Regions from separate parts of the Homo sapiens genome. Here region 1 is linked to region 2. A link means that fine-mapping ties the variant in region 2 to the plasma level of a protein whose gene starts in the linked region. Region 2 holds a variant in brackets. A gene starts in the other region. All regions are shown on their reverse strands.

Region 1 (10,213 bases), not on the chromosome of region 2:
CGGTGAAGGTGGCGTGGCGGTGGGCAGAGCGCGGGAGCCAGCTGTGGGGCGCGGTCAGGGTGACCCTCCACCCACCCTTCGCTGACGTGCGTGGAGGCTTACTAGGGCGTCGCCTCAGGGACCCGAGAGGAGTGCCCAAGGGGAAGGCGCAGTAGCCGCTCCCCCCACCACCAGCCACTGGACACAGCCTAGTTCTCACACCCCACTGCTCTCCTCCGGTGGCCCTGGGGTATCAGCGGAGCACGCGGACGTTTCTTTACGTTAGTTAGCGGACATCGGGGAAGTACAGTCTGCCCCTGATCAGGGAGGGAATGCGGATAAGGAGCTGGAAAGTTGTCCTGCTTAGCTGGCTCGAGGAGGGGTGGGGAGGTACTGGGGCTGGTGAGCCTCGTGTCCCCAGCATGTTGTCGCAGCTGCAGTCTAGAAAGACAAGGAGGGACTCCGAACTTCCCCGCGTGCACACCTTGTTCTTCTTCTGCCTGGAGGAGGTGAGCGGAGTGTCCATCTGGGCTGCTCCTCAAGAGCAGGACTCCCTCCTTCAACCCTTCACCTCATACTTTACTTGCAGCCCAGGCTCTCAACACCTGTCTTGATTTCTCTGACTCCTTGAAACTGAGTTTGCACAATCTCTGAGCCTGGCCCTGTGGTTGCAAGATTCTGAAAAGGGCCAAAGTCCGGCCACATGCACTTAGCTCCATCTCTCTGCATCAAGGCTGGGATTCAGCTGTGGTGAGGGACCAAGACAGTCACTTGGGAGTCCCATTTTCTCTATCACAATCCTTTCCCCAGCCCATCTCCTAAGCCCAGGGCTCCCAGAATTTGGGGGTGGAGCCCATATCTTTCTCTTAAACTGTTATCTGTTTTGGATGAAGTTTTACCTTCCTGCATTTCTATCCTAAGAAATGCATATCTGATGACCTTGCCATTTCGCCCCAGAGATTGATGGTTTGCAGTGCCAGTCTGAGCTTCTTAGCAAGAGAAGCCAAGGAAGGAAAGAGCTGAGCACAAGTCTCAGATGCCTCCAGGAGCTTCTGTTCTGGTCCAGTGGTTACCAGCCCTCCCATGAGTTTAAGGAACGTGCCAGGATTGTGTCAGACATCTTGCCTTCTGCTATGGGCTGTACTGGTCCCCAGAGGCCAGGCCTTGGTTGGTACAACTGTTCTTTCTTCTGTGGCCCCAGAGTGGATTTCCTGAAGCCACAGTTCAGTTTCTCAGGTGCTGTGGCCACCAGAGGACCAAAGATTAGGCTCCCCCTGGTTTTGCCCTGCCTAACCATTTGGCTCCAAACATTGTGTGTTGCTAGTAGGCTTCAACTAATGGTCAAAGAAAATAACTTTAAAAAAATCATTTCAAAAGCATAGTTTCTATAAGTATTTAATTAAAAAATATGTAACACAGAAAGTGCACAAATATCAAGTATACAACTTGATGAATTTTTACAAAGTGAACATCAACAAGCATCTTTGAGTTGTGTATTACATCTATACTTAATCCCTGAGAGGATTATAAATACTATGCAATTATTCTTGAACAGAACATTAACGAAAAAGGCTCTCCACCAAAGGGCTGTGAAATGTGTGAACTATTAGTAAAAACATCCAAGTATTACTTATACAATAATAATTCCTGGGATCACATATCCCTTTGGACAGGTTTCCTTGAGAAAGACTAGAAAGCTTTTAGCATGAGTTGAGGGTAGAATATCAGCTGGTATTCCGCAATTGGCGTCTGATTGAGAAAACACAATAACCATTTGGTACAGTCAGGTGTCCATGTAGCACTCTGCCTCTGCTTCCAAGTGTCACTCATCCTATAGACACTACGTTCTTGTTCAGGTTACACTGTTCCCACACACTGGGGTCAGAAAAAGAGAAGGAGAAGGATGTATGAGCACAAAACAAAGAAATTTCAAGGTTTAATCTTTTTTATATCCTCTAAAATAATTTATTTTCAAAGAGCATCCCTGTTGTAGAATTAAATGAGTGCAGTCGACTATTTTTTTAGGAGAGGAAGCTGAGAATAGTCAAAACCCAAATATCTGTCATTGCATGCCAATCCCATCCTGATCATTCCTTAGAAAAGACTTTTCATATCCATGCCCTGTCTGCCATCCACGTTAAACATGTTATGACATAAAAACAGTCTTTTCATCTGTCTGATATCACTGGGGGTTCATTTAGAAGTCTCTGTCCATTTTGGATTTTTGTTTGTTTGTTGTTGTTTTTGTTGTTGTTTTTGAGACAGAGTCTCACTCTGTCGCCCAGGCTGGAGTGCAGTGGCGTGATCTCAGCTCACTGCAAGCTCCGCCTCCTGGGTTCACGCCATTCTCCTGCCTCAGCCTTCCGAGTAGCTGGGACTACAGGCGCCCGCCACCATGCCTGGCTAATTTTTTATATTTTTAGTTAAGATGGGTTTTCACCATGTTAGCCAGGATGGTCTCGATCTCCTGACCTCGGTATCCACCTGCCTTGGCCTCCCAAAGTGCTGGGATTACAGGTGTGAGCCACCGCACCTGGCTTGGATGTTAATATTGAAGGGTTTTTATAGAAAGGACCATATTCCAGAAAGTATCAAGGCAGCAATTTAAAACATAGGGAACTGAAATAGCATTGGATTTTCTTTTTGTCATGAGAAAATATCAGCATCCAGTATTATTTACTTTGAGTGAGGCATATCAAAGGTTGGCAACAATATTAAATGTTTAGAGAAGGAACAACTTGTGCAATTGGGTTAAAAGTTCATCTTTAGATCAGAATAAAGAAAATGAGTTTATGTTTTAGCTTGAGGGACAGGAAAAAAAATTCTTAAAAGTTAGAGGTGTTAGGAATCCGCAAAACAGACGGAGAATGCTTTTTGGACATGTCATTCAGTCTCAGCCTATTAGTAAAAACTAATTGCTCAGAGTAGGTATGATTTTGACAGTGAGTAGTTATCTTGGCACAGCTATGTTCATGGGTCAGATCTATATAGACAAAGCATAATGAGTGGACATTGGAGATTAAGCAATTTGACTGTGATTTTAACTACCAGGATATATTGTCTCTGTATTCCAGAGCCTGAGAAAGACCTGTGAGGACCCTGTTCAAGCTCCACATTTTACAATGAGGAAACTTGGACCCAGCAGAGATAATGAGCTCCTTTCTCAAGATCATAACCTTTTTCTCAGGAAAGGTCACATAAAAGTCTTGCCCTAAGGCGGGCTTATATAGTAACGTCAGGAAGAAACAAACTTCTAGGTCTTGATTTTGTTTTGTTATCTAAGAACTTGGGAAGATATCCTGAAATTCCTGGTAATAGCATGCTGCCAGGATGGAGCAGCAGCTGGTGCCTTGGCCTGGGGAAAGCTTCCAGGATAAGCCTCGGGGATCCATCCACAATACCCCTCACTTGCCCAGGGAGAGGAGACAGACTGACATGGTTTGGACTTGGGGTCCACCACTTTCTAGCTTTGTGACCTTGAGCAACTTACATAACGTCTCTAAACTTCAGATTCTCATCTGTAGGACAGGGATTTTATAAGGGTTGTTGTAAGGGCTAGAGATATATAGGGCAAATATATAAGATATGATAAATATTAATAAGAGGAAAACTAAATTTCTAGCCAATTTCAGAGACCACTTCCAATTCCAATTCGAATTCGAATTCCAATTCCAATTGATCTATCTTACTGCTTCTCAAAACTTAGCAGTGATTCTGGGAATTCCTTCCGTAGCTTCACCAGACACCTAATTGGCCAAGAAGGTTTGAAGACCTGATGTGGTTCTTAATTGGGGATGGGGAATTAAGGGCTACTGTATCTATAGGATTATCTTTTCACTTGCATAGACCTATTTGGTGTGTTCAGGGCATAGTGATACTATAATTGCCATATTTAACAGTTTATAAAGTTCAAGCCCAGCATATTCTTTGCCTGTTTAATGATGTCTTGGTATCAGCCTTTTAATGGTACTTATCAGCATAGAAAATGGAAACAAAATAACTTTTAAAACAGTAGCTCTCAAGCTTTAGTGTGCTCAGAATGACCAGAGAACCTTGTGAAATATACAGATTTCTGGGTCCAGATCTGGGGCAGGACCAGGAAGTCTGCATTTCATCTGCACCCCCACCCTACTCTGAGGCTTATAGTCCTGAGAACATGCTTTGAAAAAGGCTGTCCCAAGGGCTCGCAGACAGGCTATTGACCAGCTACTCTTTCTTGATGTTCTCCAGGAAAAACCCAACAAAGGAATGCCTTTCATTGAGTAGTAGCAGCATAGGAGCAATAGTTGCTCCTGAATTATGGTGGGTTTCCCCTCTTCATCAATGTGCTTTAAGGGTACAGTTTCATTTGGTCTATCTACCATGTTCTATAAAAACATGAAAATTCACAGGTAAGTTTGAGATACAGAAAATAACTAAACTGATTCTTCTCACGAACTCTGATCACTAGGCTGTGGTTGATTTAGCTCTCTAACCAACAAGTAATTTGTTCTTTGGCATGAGTAAGGGGGGAAAAGGAGGAGTGGGTAAAAGCAGCTGATAACAGATGGCTTGCGCCCATCTAAAATGTGGGGAGAGAAATAAAGCTGTCCCAAGAGAACTAAAGCTGAGTTCTCTCGTCATATATCTGAAGATTCATATCAGGGGTCTAAACATGGTATGTCGGGTAGCTTAATTGGAAACTCCTGGACTGTGAGTGTCACAGACTCATGGATGGGCCAATCAGTGGCCACTTTAGTGTCTGGGCTGCAGCAAAATGAGACAATAGCTGTCATTCAAAAACCTTTGGAATTAAAAAAACCCCGAAATGACATTGGTGCTTTAAAGTAAAATAAAGTCCTGCCTTTAAGTCCAGCATATCACTGTTGTTTCTGAGTTTAAATATTAAGAACCACATTTCGTTAATGATTAAAACAACAGTGATTGATTTAGGGGCTCAGTGAGCATTTAATCTGTCCTGACTTCAGGTACCATGCTAAAGGAGCACAATGCCTGATGCTGCAGGAGAAACATTAGGTAACTATTTAATGGAGTTTTAATTTTCTGTTATTATTTTTAATAATTAATTGTGATTTTGACTATTTGGAAGCTACAGGTATATTTTGTCCTCCTTTTGGGGTGGTGTTATTGCCCTGCCCTGTTTTAATCAGTGGTTCTTAGAGAAAGTGAACTCAGGAGTGACTTAAAATGAAGGAAGACGGACTTTGGCTAAAATTACAATTAAATAATCAAATCATTTTCAAATATAAAGGGAGCATGCAGATGATCTGGCCCAATCCTTTCATTCTGCAGATGAGAAAACTGAGACTCATAGGAATGAAAAGACTTGCCCAAAGCCATACAGCTTGTTTCTGTTGTTTGGTGCATTAGGCCAAAAGACCTAGGCCTAATAGATGGAAAAGATGGCAGGATGTCTTGGCCTTGCTCTGACAGTTGCTTCTCTGATCTCAGATATTTCCCACCCTTTGTAATCTGTGTTCCACACAGGAAGTAGTTCTTGTTTTTTAAATATCGAAGGTGTATAAACGTAAAGTTTTTATAGATGAGCCACCCAGGGCCAATATCTGTTTAAGTAAAGACCTAAATGCTTTGCAGAGACAGTAAAGTGTCATGTCTGTCCCAGGGAAAGAAATCCAGGACAGGAAATGCTCAGTCTTCCAGCACTCCTCTGGCTACCTGGAGCTCAGGCTATGAGCCTCAACCCCTCCCTGAAGCATTAGCTCTGGAGCAGAGGCTGTGATTTACTTCAGAGATCTGGGCAAGTCCCTTTAACCTGGTAGTCCTGCCTTTCCTTGTTTGTAAAACAGAGAGATGAGGCTGATAGCTCCCTCACAGCTCCATCAGAGGCAGTGTGTGAAATTAGTTCCTGTTTGGGAAGGTTTAAAAGCCACCACATTCCACCTCCCTGCTAATATGATTACTAAAATGTTTTTATATGAAAGGGCCAATTCCTCATCTCCCCTCTTCCTTTAAAAACAGACCAAGGGGCATCTTTTCTTGTCTCCCTGTGGCCTAAAAGGTTACTGCTTCTGTGGTTATCTCCTTGGAAAGACAGAGTGTCAGGACTCTTAGGTACACCAAAAATGAACAAAAAAATCAACAACAACCATAACACCAACAAAAATAACTGCTGTGTCGGTTCTTAAGACGGCTTCTGAGCTAGAAACAGATTTTTCTAACTGTAAAAAACGTGGCCCCAGCCTGTCTGCAGGCCACCTCTGTCTTTAGGCCTTGGGGGGAGGAGGGAAGTGAGCTCATTTACTGGGGTCTACCTCAGGGTCATCACCAAGGTGTTCTACAAAACGCACTTTAAGAATGTTTTGGAAGGAAATTCACCTTTTAACAGCCCAAGAGGTATCTCTCTCTGGCACACAGTTCTGCACACAGCCTGTTTCTCAACGTTTGGAAATCTTTTAACAGTTTATGGAAGGCCACCTTTTAAACCGATCCAACAGCTCCTTTCTCCATAACCTGATTTTAGAGGTGTTTCATTATCTCTAATTACTCAGGGTAAATGGTGATTACTCAGTGTTTTAATCATCAGTTTGGGCAGCAGTTACACTAAACTCAGGGAAGCCCAGACTCCCATGGGTATTTTTGGAAGGTACGGCGACTAGTCGGTGCATGCTTTCTAGTACCTCCGCACGTGGTCCCCAGGTGAGCCCCAGCCGCTTCCCAGAGCTGGAGGCAGCGGCGTCCCAGCTCCGACGGCAGCTGCGGACTCGGGCGCTGCCTGGGCTTCCGGGACCCGGGCCTGCTAGGCGAGGTCGGGCGGCTGGAGGGGAGGATGTGGGCGGGGCTCCCATCCCCAGAAAGGGAGGCGAGCGAGGGAGGAGGGAAGGAGGGAGGGGCCGCCGGGGAAGAGGAGGAGGAAGGAAAGAAAGAAAGCGAGGGAGGGAAAGAGGAGGAAGGAAGATGCGAGAAGGCAGAGGAGGAGGGAGGGAGGGAAGGAGCGCGGAGCCCGGCCCGGAAGCTAGGTGAGTGTGGCATCCGAGCTGAGGGACGCGAGCCTGAGACGCCGCTGCTGCTCCGGCTGAGTATCTAGCTTGTCTCCCCGATGGGATTCCCGTCCAAGCTATCTCGAGCCTGCAGCGCCACAGTCCCCGGCCCTCGCCCAGGTTCACTGCAACCGTTCAGAGGTCCCCAGGAGCTGCTGCTGGCGAGCCCGCTACTGCAGGGACCTATGGTGAGCAAGGCTACCTGGTGAGGGGAGACAGGCAGAGGGGGTCTAGGAGCCTCCTTGGGGGGAAGAAGCTGGTCACAGGCTGTGACCGAGGCAAAAGGTGGCCTAATTATTTTCCAATAGTGGTGCTGGAGGTGGGGATGCTGGCGCTGAAAGACCTTTAAATATCGGCTACTGCCCCTGCCCAGGCCTTCTCTGTCCAGCAGTCCCTGGGAGATTCTCACCTTTGGGAAGTGCGGGGCAGGAGAGCAGAAACAAGAGAAGCCCTTGGTAGGGGGGTCGTTGGGAAAAACTGTGGGGTCTTGGGCTGAACGCGTTGCCCACGGGCTGGAGGTTGCGATCCCCGGACGGAAAGCGCGGGAGGAGGAAGGAGAGAACCGGCTCTGAGGTCCAGAGAGAGTGAGGGGGCAGAGCGACGGCGAGATGGGGAGAGAACACCTAGCTGGAGCAGGTTCTGCGGTAGAGAGCGCAGTCCTGCTGGCCTCTGGAGAGTGCGCGCCGCTCCGGAGGCTGCGTCGAGGGGAGTGTCACCCAATCTGGCCCCCAGCTGGCGGGGCGCCCTGAGAGCTTGCGAACTGCAGTTGCAGGACGCGCCTTCTCCACGAGCTATTTTCGTCGACTTGCGGAACCCAAGGAACCTCGCCTCTATCATTTCACGGTGTAGGGTCCCTAGAGACGACAGCCAAGATCCCAGGGGCTCCCAGGACGCTTGTTCCTGCGGTGTCGTGTCCTATGGGGAGTTCCTGGCGGGACGAAAGGCGGACGCGCGGCTCTTCCTGGCCCTCCAGGCCCGGAACCGACGGGAAAGGTTCCCGTGATTCCCGAGTCCCTGCAGGCTTCTTCCAGCGGGAGTTGGTCCGGGGGCCTTAGAGGCCTCCAAGCACTGCTTTGGAGGATGGTTTCCAAGGATCGCGGTTTGTGAGTTGAAGGCTTTGTGAGAGGTTAAACCCCCAAAAGATACATACTTGGTAAACTGAGGCTACCTGTAAACACATTTCGGCATTAGGAGAAGATTCGAGTAGGGAAGTGAAGGACAACCACCCCGAGTTACATTCCTTTCCCCCAATAAAAAGCTCTGGGGATGAAAGTTCTTTTGGCTTTTATCTTTTCGATTTAAAAATTTGAGAAGAAAAATGTGACTAGAGATGAATCCTGGTGAATCCGAAATTGAAACACAACTCCCCCTTCCCCTTCCTATCCTCTCGGTTTTAGAACCGCGCTCTCCCGCCCCAGGAGATTCCTTGGGGCCGAGGGTTTTCCGGGGAACCCGGGCGCCCGCCCCTTCTACTGTCCCTTTGCCCCGCGGGCACAGCTTGCCTCCGTCTGCTTTCTCTACTTCTGGACCTCTCCTCGCCGGGCTTTTTAAAGGGCTTCTGCGTCTCAAAACAAAACAAAAAAACCCTTTGCTCTTCCCAACCCTTTCGCAGCCCGCCCCAGCGGTGGCGCGGGACCAGCAAAGGCGAAAGCCGCGCGGCTCTTGCCGGGCGCGGACGGTCGCGCAGGGGCGCCCGCGGCCTCCGCACCCGGACCTGAGGTGTTGGTCGACTCCGGGCATCCACGGTCGGGAGGGAGGGCTGAGCTGTTCGATCCTTTACTTTTCTTCCTCAAAGTCTACCTGCCAATGCCCCTAAGAAGAAAACCAAGTATGTGCGTGGAGAGTGGGGCGGCAGGCAACCCGAGTTCTTGAGCTCCGGAGCGACCCAAAGCAGCAACTGGGAACAGCCTCAGGAAAGGGAGGTCGGGTGGAGTGGGCTTTGGGGCAGGAGTCATGGGGCCCGGGCCCCGGGGACGACCTGGCGCTCCCGGCCCTGCTGAACGCTGAGTTGCGCCTAGTCGGGTTTTCGAAGAGGCCCTTGCGCAGAGCGACCCACGCGCGCGGCAGCATCTTCGATTAGTCAGGACATCCCAGTAACTGCTTGAACTGTAGGTAGGTAAAATTCTTGAAGGAGTATTTGCTGCGTGCGACTCTGCTGCTGGTGCAACGGAGGAAGGGGGTGGGGGAAGGAAGTGGCGGGGGAAGGAGTGTGGTGGTGGTTTAAAAAATAAGGGAAGCCGAGGCGAGAGAGACGCAGACGCAGAGGTCGAGCGCAGGCCGAAAGCTGTTCACCGTTTTCTCGACTCCGGGGAACATGGTGGGATTTCCTTTCTGCGCCGGGTCGGGAGTTGTAAAACCTCGGCCACATTAAGATCTGAAAACTGTGATGCGTCCTTTCTGCAGCGACGCCTCTTTCTGAATCTGCCCGGAGCTTCGAGCCCCGGCGTCTGTCCCTCAGCCTGGCATGGCTTCTTCGGGGGTCTGCTTTGCATGGGGAGAGGGGCCACGCAGCGGCGGACTAGGTTTGGGGATTCTCGGTAATGGACCCGGAGCAATGACTAACAGCCGCTCCCTCTCACTTTCCCACAGCGATCACCCTCTAACACCCTCCCTCCCATTCCCGGCCCCGCGCGTGACAAGGTCGGCTGCTTTCAGCCGGGAGCTAGATCGGTGGCCCGGCTCTTCGGAGCCTTAGCAGGCGTTCGCCAAGGGGTGACTGGCTGTCATTGGGAGCAATATTTGGCCTTGAGGAGACCCTGGGGAGGAAGTGGCGGGGAGCTCGTGTTTGCTTGTGTGTGTGTGGGGGGGTGTGTGTGTACACGCGCGTGGGCAGGGTCCCTCTGCGCTTTCCTTTTTAAGTGCCTCTCGGTGGTGAGGCTTTGGGCGGGTGAGACTTTCCCGACCTCGCTCCCGGCCCCACTTAAGCCGGGTTCGAGCTGGGAGACGCAGTCCCTTCAGTGCGCCCCAAATCCTCTGGCTTCAGGTGGCCCGGCGCGGGGGCCCAGCACGACGCACCGCGCCGAGAACCGGGTTCTCCGTGCGCTGCGCCAGTAGCCCTGGGAGCGCGGCGGCCGCGGGGCACCGGCCGAGGGCTCTGCCGAGCGCCGCCGGGAGCTCCTCCCGGACCGCTGAGGCTCGGGCGGCGGGCGCGGAGGTTGGCCTCGCCTGGAGGGGCGGGCCCGCGAGGGGCGGGGGGCTGTGGAGGAGGGGAGGGCGCGCAAGCCCTTTCGCCGCCT
Region 2 (10,736 bases):
TTAGAAAACAGTTGTTGCTGGGCGTGGTGGCTCACACCTGTAAACCCAGCACTTTGGGAAGCTGAGGCGGGAGGATCATTTGAGTCCAGGAGTTTAAGACTAGCCTGGGCAACATAGCGAGACCCTGTCTCTACAAAAAATAACAAGTTACCTGGTCATGGTGGCACACGTCTGTAGTCCCAGCTATTCAGGAAGCTGAGGTAGGAGGATTGCTTGAACCTGGGAGGTCAAGGCTGCAGTGAGCTATGATCATGCCAGTGCACCCTAGCCTGGACAACAGAACAAGATCCTGTCTCAAAAAAGAAAAGGAAAGAAAAAAAAAAAGTTGTTTAAGTTGCCAAATTCTGGGGTAATTCATTATGCAGCAAAAGCAAATGGAACTTTTCCAAATTTCTTCCAGAGCCCCAGCAAACTATCCCTCAGGTGTAGAGAACAGACCTAGGGAAGAGGACTGTGCAGTCCAAGAAGCAGACTCAGGGCTGCTTGGGCAGAGAATTCCAGGATCCTAGGTCCCCACTGTGGTCTAGAGAGGAGGTGGGGTGCACATACCCTCAATCCCATGGACCCCTTGGGCTGTGGGTAGGAGTGCAGCTGAAAGTGGGTCAGACTGGGGCCCTCCAGAGGGCATGGCCCAGGGTGGGGGTCCCTCTTTCCTGGGCTTAAAGGTGGTCCTGCCCTCCTTTACCACCATGGCTCCCTGCTACTACCAGCACAGGGGATGTAATTGTCCTCTGTGTCCAACTGCATCCTCAAAAGTCTCCAGTCTAGAGAGGGAGAGACATAAACAATGACAACAGAGTGACAAACACAGAAGAAGGCACAGGGGTGGCTGTGAGAACCCATGGCCAGGGAGCGGGGAGAGGGGTGTCAGAGGAAGCTTCCTGGATGAGGAGACATCCAAATAGAGACGTTAAGCAATTATTCAGGGAAAGTGGAGAAATCGTGTTTCAGTCCTAGGAAACAGGGAGGTCAGAGGCCTCACAACAGGCAAAAGTGGTGACAGGCAAGGATACAAATGGAGACTCCATGTCATATCACATATGATCTATTACATATTATGATATGTAGTCTCCATTTGCACTCTTGCCTGGGTCCTGCAAATCGGAGGGGTGGTACTGGTGGTGGTGGAGGCAGTAATGGTGGTGGTGGCAGTGGTAATGGGAGTAACAATGGTAGCAGTGATCATTCCAGAGCTCAACAACCATTGATTGAGCACCTACTGTATGTTAAACATCTGGGAAGCAGCAAAAAGTTCAGCCTGGCAAGAGAGTAGTATCGGGCAGTGGATGTAGGTGGTGCAGGAAGTGGGGGTGAGGGGCACGGGCTTTAGAGAGAAGCCTGGAGAGGCAGCAGAGGTCAATTTCCCCAGGGCCACCAGAACAGGGCTGATATTCAGGAAGGATGGGCTGGCAGGGCTGTCAACACTGGGGCCTATCCTGATTGCCCAGGGCCTATTCCAAATCAGTAGTTATTCTGAATATCTCCCCTATTTTTGAGCCTGGAACGATTTCCAGCAGGGGAGTGACTCAGACAGATTTGTGTTTTACAAAGATCCCTGAGGCTTCTGTGGGAGAAAGACTTGGAAGGAGTCAAGAATGGAAGCAGGGCAATCAGTTAGTATTAATAAGTTATTGCAGCTACCAGTGACAGAGATGGTGGCAGTCTGGATGAGGGTGTGGCAACAGAGAGGGAGAGAAGTGGGTGGGATTGCCAGCTATTTAGAGGGCAGAATCAACAGAAGCCACGGTGAGTCACACACAGCCCCTCACAGTGCAAAGGGGAAGAAAAAGCATGGATTTCAATAGCAATTAAAATTAGCATTGTTGTGTTTCGCAGGATATAAAGCCCTTTCACACGCACTGATGACATGAACCAGGGCTGGTGGAGTGAGCAGGGAAGATTTTCCTTCTGTAGGGGAGGGTCATGTGAGGCGAAAGGTTTTTTTGCTGCAGCCCTCCCTTTTCTTCCAGACTCAAATGCTATCAGTTAAGGACATGAGCCCTGGTGCTGCAGCAGCCATCTTGTGGCCATGAGGCTGAGAATGATAAAAGCCAGGATGCTGAGGAAGGCTGTCCTGAGCTGAGTCCTCAATGACCTTGATGACCTACACTGAAGCAGTCTGGAGACCACATACCTCCACATTTCTTGTTAAGAAAATAACAGATGTCCTTGCAGTTTATGCCACTGTAGCGGCACTGCCATTGACCCAATCACAATGCCTGTTATCCCTTTACCATTGTCATACATACCAGCTCCAGTGAGCTTTCATTCCCAACAGCCAGCACCTGCTTCTCTTTGTCAGAACACTGACCTTAGGCTGCCTGAGCCCACTTTGCCAGTGAGCATGGAAAACCAGAAGAGCCTGACAATGTCCACCTCCGCTCCACCCCAGGTGGCCCTTAGCTCAGACAGATGAGTATGGAGGTGCCAATCCTCCAGCTCCCTTGTGCTGATGTGGATGACTCTGAGGAGTGATTGCACGATCTCCGGAGCTCCTCTGCAAGTCTGAGTCAAGCTCCCCTCTGCGGGACTTGGCCTGAATCACACCCTTGCCTTGCCTTCTTCCCTTCCCACTTCTCCACACCCCTACTACTGGTTTGTCTTGGAAACACTTCCTAAGACATCACTTTCAACTCATCTTCTCATCTCAACTTCTGTTTCTAAGAATCCCAACCTAAGACAGCCACTGTTAGTCAGGTGTTCTGTACTTGCAGCCTAATGCATTCTAACAGACACAGGCCCAGCAAGGTAAAGGTCTAATAGCAATTTTGCTATGTTTCAGATGTAGGTTTCCTGCCTGCAAAACCTATCATTTGTTCAAACGTGCTAATAAGCTGATGATTAAAAACATAACTTTGTAAAGTGCTACATCCTAAACATAATAGCATTGGCAGCTAATTACTACCAATTACTGAGCATCTCCCATGAGCCAGGCACTAGGCCAAGGCTTTGATTACCTCCGTGACCCCATTTAATCTTCATTAGAACCCTATAAGGTGGACACTGTATTAATTTTGTATGCTGAGTAACAAATTACCACAAATTTAGCATATTTATTGTCTCACAGCTTCTGTAGGTCAGAAGCCTGGGAACAGACAGTTCTCTGCTTCAGGGTCTCACCAGCCTACAATCCAGGCATCAGTTAGAGCTGCAGTCTCATCAGAAGCTTGACTGGGGAAAGATCCACTCCCAAGTTCCCTTAAGCTGGAAAAATTCACCTCCTTGCAGTTGCAGGATTGAAGCCCTGGTATTCTTGCTGGCTGTCAGCCAGGGTCCACTTTCAGTTCCTAGAGGTGACCCACAGTCTTGCCACGTGGCCTTCTCCTAGGCCTTCTTGTAGCACAACAGCTTACTTCTTCAAAATCAGAACTCAGAGTCTCTGACTCCAGGGAGGGTACAGTTCCTCTTTTAAGGAATTTTCCCTGACTAAATCAGGCCCACTCAGCATAATCTCCCTTTTGAGTAACTCAGAATGTAATAATTTGGAACCCTAATTACATCTGCAAAATCTCTTCACCTTTGCCGTGTTCCAGCGGTCAGAAGCAAATCACAGGTCTTGTTCACACTCAAAAACTGGGGATAATACAGGGTGTGAACATTATGGGTGCCATACTAGGGTCTGTCTGCCACACTATTATTATCCAAATTGTACAGTTGAGGAAACTGAGGCAAAGAAGAGTTTAGTAATGCTACCCAAGATCATACTGCCAGTGAGTGAACGCGGAGTGTGGTTTCAAACCCATGCACTGTAGTTCAGAGCCTGCACTCCTTTTTTTTTTTTTCACCCATTTCCCCTTTCAAGAAGGAGCCTGCACTCTTATCTGTTACTCTGCACTGCCCAGACACTGCTCCAAATACTTTCCCTTCCTTATGTCCCCAAATTTCCTTGAAAATACAAGGAGGAAATGGAAGCTCAGAGAGGTTAAGGAACTTTTTCAAGGTCACACAGTACTGGAGTCAGGGCCACAAACTAGATTTATAAATCTCCAAGACCCAAGATCTTTAGAGCTTGTTTGGAGGTTCTAGTAGGGGAGCATAGCTCCTCATATACCCTTGACAGAGGGATGGTCCTCCTGTATCAGGAAGGTCATCCTCTTTGACCAAGCATGCAGCTTCAGGAGGGATGCACTGGAGTGGTGAGGGAGGAAGGGGACACCCGCCTAGCCAGCCAGACCGGCCAAATCAACCCTGTGATCATTGAGGTGACAGATGTCACAGCCAGATTGTCTTCACATCAAAAACCCAAGATCTTAACCAGTGTAGAAGGCAGTCAGTGCTTTAGCAGAGGACTAGAGAGTACGGAAGGAGTTCACAGGAGACAAAGAGCACCCCTACTGGGGCAGGGTGGGGCACAGTCATAGAGAAATAACAACATATAGCTATTTGAAAATGGGGGAGAGGGAGGGGAGAAAGTATATTTCCAAGGAGGGGACAGGTTAAGCAAAGTCAAAGCTGCAGGAAAGCACAGGTGTTTGGGATTGAACAGGGGTGGAGGGTAGTTTTGGGGGCACTGAGAAAGGAGACTGGAGATGTAGCCAGGTCCCAATTTGGAACACGAGGCTGAGGGGTCAGAGCTTTATTCTGAAGACAGTGGGGAGCCACACTCCAGTGACCCCACTCCTCTGCCCACAGGGAGCTCTCAAAGGGTGCTGAGCAGCAGCAGTCATGCACAAAAATGCCTTTAAGAGGGTGAATGCAGTGTGTGGAAGACAGGACTGTTTAGGGGTCTTCCTGCCTCTGATGGCATTTCCCACTCAAGGGCACCTGTGATTTTCCCATATCCCTAGGAGGAAGGGTTGATGTGAGGTCATGACCATTTTATGAGTGAGGAAACTGAGGCCCATTGGGAGACATGCGGGCCTGTGAGGGTAACAAGGCCCAGTGATGGGAACAAATGTCTCACTTCAGTCCTGGTGCTGGGAGTATGGGGACCAGCGATTATACTTTTCCTAGTTTATGGCTCATTCATCCTCATTCATGTAACAGAATCAGCATGAGGCTGTGGATTCCAAGGCCCCAAGCCCAAGGGTTCCGATTCAGCAGATGTGAGGTGGGGCCATCAACTGGCCTTTTTAAACAAGCACCCTGGTGACTCAGGGCCAGAGTATCCTTCAAGAAACCCTCAAGGGTGTAAGGATCCCAACCTCAGTGGGAGAACGCTGCCCATGATGCAGCCTTACCTGTGAGGGCCTCCTCCTGCCCCTTCCTCTGGGGGTGCCTCAGCCCAACTCAGGCCTCATCAAGTCACTGCCTCCAGCCTCAGCCCTTCAACCCCTCCTTTACACAGCAGCCCAAGTGAACTTTCCAAAAAGCAAAGCTGGCTTTCTCACGGCCCAGCTCAAACCCCTCCCGTGGCTCCCCGTCACACAGGTGGAAGTCGGCCTCCCCTGCCCGGGTTCCCGGGTCCAGCTCCAGAGAAGGCAACGCACCTGAGTTTTACTCCCCCGTTGCCTCTGCCTGGGCTGCCTTTTCCTGTGTACCGGGGGACCCCTCCTCAACCTCACCTAAGACGCAGCCCCCTGCCCCCAGAAAGGCTTTCTGTCCCTTGCCCCAGGACTAGAATACCTGCTGACCTTTTGTTTCTTATGTAAACCTCCCAGCAATACTCTAAGGGCTGGCTCCGGCTAGCGCTATTAATAATGGGGAAACGGAGGCTCAGAGCGTCAGTAACTTGCCCCAGGTTCCTCTGCTGTAAAAGGCGAGATTCGAACTCCAAACAGCTGCCCCTGGAGGGCTCCACTTCCCGCGGTTGCCAGCAGGGGTGCGCGGAGCCGCGGGGATCCGAGAGGCG[G/C]GGGCCGCGGTGGGGGCCGCGGTGGGGGCGCTGGAAGAACGGGGGCTTTGATTCCCATCTCCCGGCGCAGACCCAGACGCTAATTAAAATCGCCTGGGCCGCGGGGGCGGCGGGACGGGCACAAAGCCGGCTTTGACCGGGCGGCGGCGGCGCTGGCGGGCGCGGGGCCGCGTCGCACAGGGGCTGCTTGTGGCCGTGTTTGTTTTCGCTTGTAAAGCGCGGCCGCGAGCAGTGCCCGGGCGGCGTGGGGGTGCCCAGCCCGGGGAGGGCCCCTGAGGCCACGGCGCCCGCCCGGCCGCGCTCGCTACCCAGGGCCACCCTGGGCAAAGCCCTGCCCACTAGGGCCTCAGCTTCCCTTTCTCTCACAGGATGATAGCGGTGTCACTAGGAATGAACGCTTATTGGGCGCTTACTGTATTCCAGGGCCTGGACCGAGGCTTCTCCCACTTGGTTTTATGTCATCCTCCCGGCTCTATTAATATCCCCATTTTACAGATGAGGCCCAGGGAGGTTGAACACCTTGCCCAAGGTCTCACGGGTTTAAAGGAAAGAGCAAGGCCTAAAGTCCAGCAGAGGGAGAGCAGGGTTCGGGGCAGCTGGGTCACAGGAGGTGGGTGTATCGGGGAGAATGTTCCTGCTCAGAGCCCGCTCACTGCCTATCAAGCTGCGCTTTGAGAGTGAACTCCCATCGCCGGGGTACTGAAGCGGAGCCTTAGACTGAACCAGTGGGGGCCCTCTGAGCTTCCTTCCAGCTTGGGCCATTAGGGTCCCTCAGTGTGCGGGAGTGGCACTGCCCTGAAAGGAAAGCCTTTTCTGGGCTGCACTGGGCATTGGGGGTGGGGTCCGAGTATTGCCAGTGCTGGCAGAGGAGTAGGTCTCTGTGGATGGGTGGGAACCAAGAAAAGATAGGAGCTTCTTCCTTGGGAGCCCCCATGTTTGGAAGAATCTCCTGGCTTCTATAGTCATTGAATCACCAAATCTTAGTGGCCTTTGCACTTGCACCCACCCTGTGGTTCTGTCTTTCACTCACTTTTCACTGAGATTCCCACTCATCCTTCAGTTCTCAGCTCAGAGCAAGTTATACCCTCCCAGCACCCATCACTTCTTCATACCCATCACAGTGGTAATGGTGCACTCAAGGCATTGGCCCTTTCTGTCTGACTCAGAGCCCTGAGGACGAGACTGTATCAGCTTGCCCCCCTCTCAGCTACCAGGTCCCTCCCTTCATAAACAGGCCCAGGAAGGTGCACTGGGGAGTATTTCCTCTGGTGCCTCCAGATCAGAGCTCAGTCAAGGCCTGGCTGGAGGTCTTGGGATGAGAGTGGGCATGGTCAGAGAAATACAGAAGCCCGATGGGGGCCCAGGCTCACTGCCTAAGGAGGTGACTGATAAGGCGGCTGACAGTGTCCATCCAGTGACATGGCACCGATGGAGTGTCCTGTGGCTGGGGGTCCTGCCTCCCTTCTGAGACTGGTTCTCTGGTAGCCTCAGCTCTGTGCCTCTCTTCCTCCCTCGAGCTAGCCCCCCAGCCCCTATTTGCCCTGTGTCTGCAGATGGCTGGCTGGGAGGGCTTCGACCTGGATAGGAGTCCCCCACTGATCCCAGCCACCTGTGAGGAGGAGAACAAGGCGGGAGGGAGGATTTCTCTAAGGCTCTCCCCCTCCCTAAGACCTGGGAGCCAGAGCTTGGACAGAGACACTATTAACACAAACTCTGCAAACATGGCTTCTAAAAATAGCTCTGGCTGGCAAGGCCCACCTGGCACAGACTGCACCTTTGCGGCTGCTGGCCTGCTCCCCTTGGAGCATGGGCCATCAGTCTGTCAGCAGACATGTCACTCTGCCCTCTTCCCCCAGGGGACGGGGCAGCCACAGCCTTAGGTGGGATCCAGGGGAGAGACCCTCGTGAAGATGGGGCTTGTCCCAAACTGATGAGGGGGAGAGGGAGGATGTGCGATGTCAGGAGGAAGACAGTCTTGGCGATAAGGTGGATTGAGGAGACAGCACTGCCCACAGGGAACTCTCAAAATGGGTTGGGGGAAGGACACAAATGTATGAAAGAAGACCAAAGCAGCATTTAAACTCCTGCAAATGAAAGTGCCAAGACGAAGAAGGAAAGCCTGCGGGGAGGAGGGCAGGGCCAGGAGCGTGGTTCCATGATCATTATAGACCCAGATGGGGGTGGGCATATGGTCACCCCCACAGCAAATCCTCAGGACCTCAGAGCCAGGAAGGAACCCAAAAGCTCACCTTGTCCAACCCTTTTATTGGACACATGAGAAAACTAAGGCCCAAGTTGTTGAGCCTTGCCCCAGGTCCCTCCACACGGGTCTGCTGGCCTCATGCCATTTCCACCAGGCCTCTGGGCCTCCCTGTCTGCGGGCTGATGGAATGACCATAATTAATGTTTCTCAGAATGCTCCTTTTTCATTGTCAGTTTATTGAGAAAAGCTTTACTGAGCACCTACTGTGTGCCACACACTGGGTTCACAAAGCTGAACTGGACAGGCAGGCCCCTGCTTTCCAGGCTAATGGCAACACCCACTTGTGTGCACAGAGCTCTCCTGTGCATTCACATAAATTCACAGAATGGAACACAGTTTCCCAGCTTACAGCTGAGGAACCCGAGGCTCACGGAACTTTGTCATCAGCAAAGTTGGGGCCGGAGCCTCCCCATGTTGCCTCAGGAGGCCCCGGGTTGCCTCCGAGTCAGTGGGGACAGGCCTGTAGGAGGCTAGTCATGTGCTCCTGGAATGTCTCCTGTCCCGGATGCCACCATGGAGGAGAGCTGAGAGGGCGCTGGAGGCCCTGGGACCGGAAACGCGCAATTCCGCTGCAGTGCCTTGCTTTTGGTTGGGTTCGGTGGCGTACCCGGACACATTACATAGGTAGACCCTGCCCTCGCAGAGCTCATGGGGAAGCCCTGCTGCTCCCTATTGGGTAGCTTCTAGTAGTCCTCCCTAGCCCTCCTCATGAATTCATCAGACCACACACAAATGCCCACTCCTGGAGTGGGAAAATAAAGCAAGAGCGGTCGTCTTCCTCCCCGCCCTCACACAGGCTCCATCAGGGTCTCTGGAGGGGAGGGGCATAGTGGTCAGTAGATGTGAAGCCACCTGACCTCCCTCAAGGGCACCTGTCCGTGCTGGTCCCTCACAACAACCCCTGGGAAGTGCCCATCTGAGTTCTTTCTGTAGACACCCCAGGCTCACCCTCGGTGAGGACCTGTGTTCCTTTCTCCTCTTTTTCTGGCATCACGGTGAATTCTTCTCTGCAGTGGGTTCATTCAAGGTGGAGCCTGCACATCCACTCCAACTATTCCCCCATGCCCCCAGGGGCACATCCCCGCATCTACACCTCCCTGCTTGCTGCCCAGAACTTTCCAGAACACCATGATGCAATGCTTGCCTAAGTCTCCACATCCATCACACACCTTGTGGGCTGACAGGGCCCTGACCCTGGGCCCAGGGAGTAGCCAGCTGTTCCACTCTGCTCACAGACTCTGGAGATCCATCTGCCACAGAGAGCTCTCCATGCCTTAGAAGGCCCCCTCCGTGCACAGCCCCATCGGATGAAAATGGCCACTCTGAACATATGATTGTCATTTTGAGATGACCCTTCCACCCTAGCCACACCTGAGCAAAGGCCACATCTCTGGGCTGGACCTAAGAGAGGCGTGTGCTCTGTGAGGCAGCCCGGCTCTGGAACACTGAGGGTAAGTAGAGTCAAAACCTAACCTGAGGGCACAAACCATGTTGGCAGTCATGCCTTCCCTAATATTTTGTTCTCATGAAACGGCTCCCCATTCCCTTTCACGGAAGCAGTGTGGGCAGGTCTTTGCCCAGCGCAGGCCACTGACCAGCCAGAGGTGGGGAGAGTCCCAGCTCACAGGCCCCCAGAGCCTGAGGAGGCCCCTGGGAAGAGTCTGCCAGTGAGGTGATGAACTCACTGTGCTCCCTCCAGGGATCTGGCCTGGGGCCGGCTCAGAGCACTGGGCCAATGGGAGTGGAGGGGACAAAGCACACAGAGGGCTGCCTTGGTGTCTGAGCCTTCCCCAGTTCCAGGCCACACAGGTCCCCCAGAACTACTCCCAAGGTGCCCTGAGAGAGTCTGTGCCCCTTGCATCCAAAATACTGGTCTAGCAAACAGATCCTTTCTCTTTGGGGTTTAAGTGGGAGACCCAACAAGTGTGAAGGAAAGAGCAGCAGACCTGGCGTGAGGCTGGGGAAGGAGCTAGGGCTGCTGCTACTTTGGAGGGCACTGAGGAGCCACCAGGCCAGCAGGGCTGCAGTGTAGACACTGCCATCAAAAGGCCATGCCACCGGAGAAGTCCTTCTGTGCTCCCTCACTGTCCCCACAGTACCTCAGGGGCTCTCTTTTCCTTGTAGCAGGAACAACCTAAACATGCCACTGGACTCCTGCAAAAACCCTTGGGCTGGAAGGGAGAAGCCCCAGCCATGGCATTAACTGCAGGGTGACCTAAATAAGTCACTCAGTCTCTCCCAAGCTCAATTTTCCCATCTGGAAATTGGGGAGACCAATCCCAGTTTCTCCGTATCCTCCCACAAGACATGGTGTTGGCAGGAGGCGGGGGCTGTGAGAATACAATGAGATCACAAATTGGAAAACACACGGAGACTCGGCCTCCAGTTACAAGTGATTCGTCATTTATGACCTTATCTGCACGAAAACACCAAATGGCAAATCCTTGCCTCTGTCCTCCCTCAGGTTAAAAAGATTCTTCTGTCATGCGGTCAATGGATACAGGAGAGTCTCCCTTGGGTGCTTGACTCCATTTGGGGGTGGAGAGGGGGTTCAAGAGAACAAGGCCCCGGCACAACCCTCCCAGGGCTCACAGTCTGTCTGAGATGATGAGATTCACACACACATAATCACTGCCATATTTTGGTGCACTGACTCGATGGCAGCCCTGAGCAATGTGTTTT

Which allele goes with the higher level. Alleles are on the strand shown, and positions count from the first base shown. The strength of an association depends on the size of the effect and on how common the allele is.
For the plasma level of the protein whose gene starts at base 6,890 in region 1, allele C in region 2 goes with a lower level than allele G (weak association).

Evidence for each region. PIP is the chance, under the fine-mapping model, that this variant and not a neighbour inherited with it causes the effect. The UK Biobank Pharma Proteomics Project read protein levels with antibody pairs (Olink). The fine-mapping took linkage between variants from a reference panel, not from the people measured, so its PIPs are less certain.
Region 1: BMP4 starts here. The variant in region 2 is fine-mapped to the plasma level of the BMP4 protein (UK Biobank, PIP above 0.99).

The regions. Positions count from the first base shown.
Region 1 is chr14:53,953,502-53,963,714 of GRCh38, reverse strand. It overlaps BMP4 (bone morphogenetic protein 4), which reads left to right and starts at 6,890. Exons shown (of 4, transcript NM_001202.6): 1 at 6,890-7,165. It overlaps LOC124903317, which reads right to left and starts at 9,533. Exons shown (of 2, transcript XM_047432035.1): 1 at 7,387-9,533; 2 at 1,359-1,854. The coding sequence starts at 7,814. The coding sequence ends at 1,806. RefSeq lists silencers at 6,928-7,007, 7,657-7,766, 9,966-10,055, 10,106-10,175 and promoters at 5,722-7,064, 4,946-7,064, 8,967-9,287, 7,992-9,287, 9,459-9,959.
Region 2 is chr11:74,678,725-74,689,460 of GRCh38, reverse strand. It overlaps the pseudogene RN7SKP297. Among named protein-coding and RNA genes, the nearest start is that of MIR4696, 36 kb to the left of the region's middle. The variant G/C (reference allele first, on the strand shown) is at 5,792.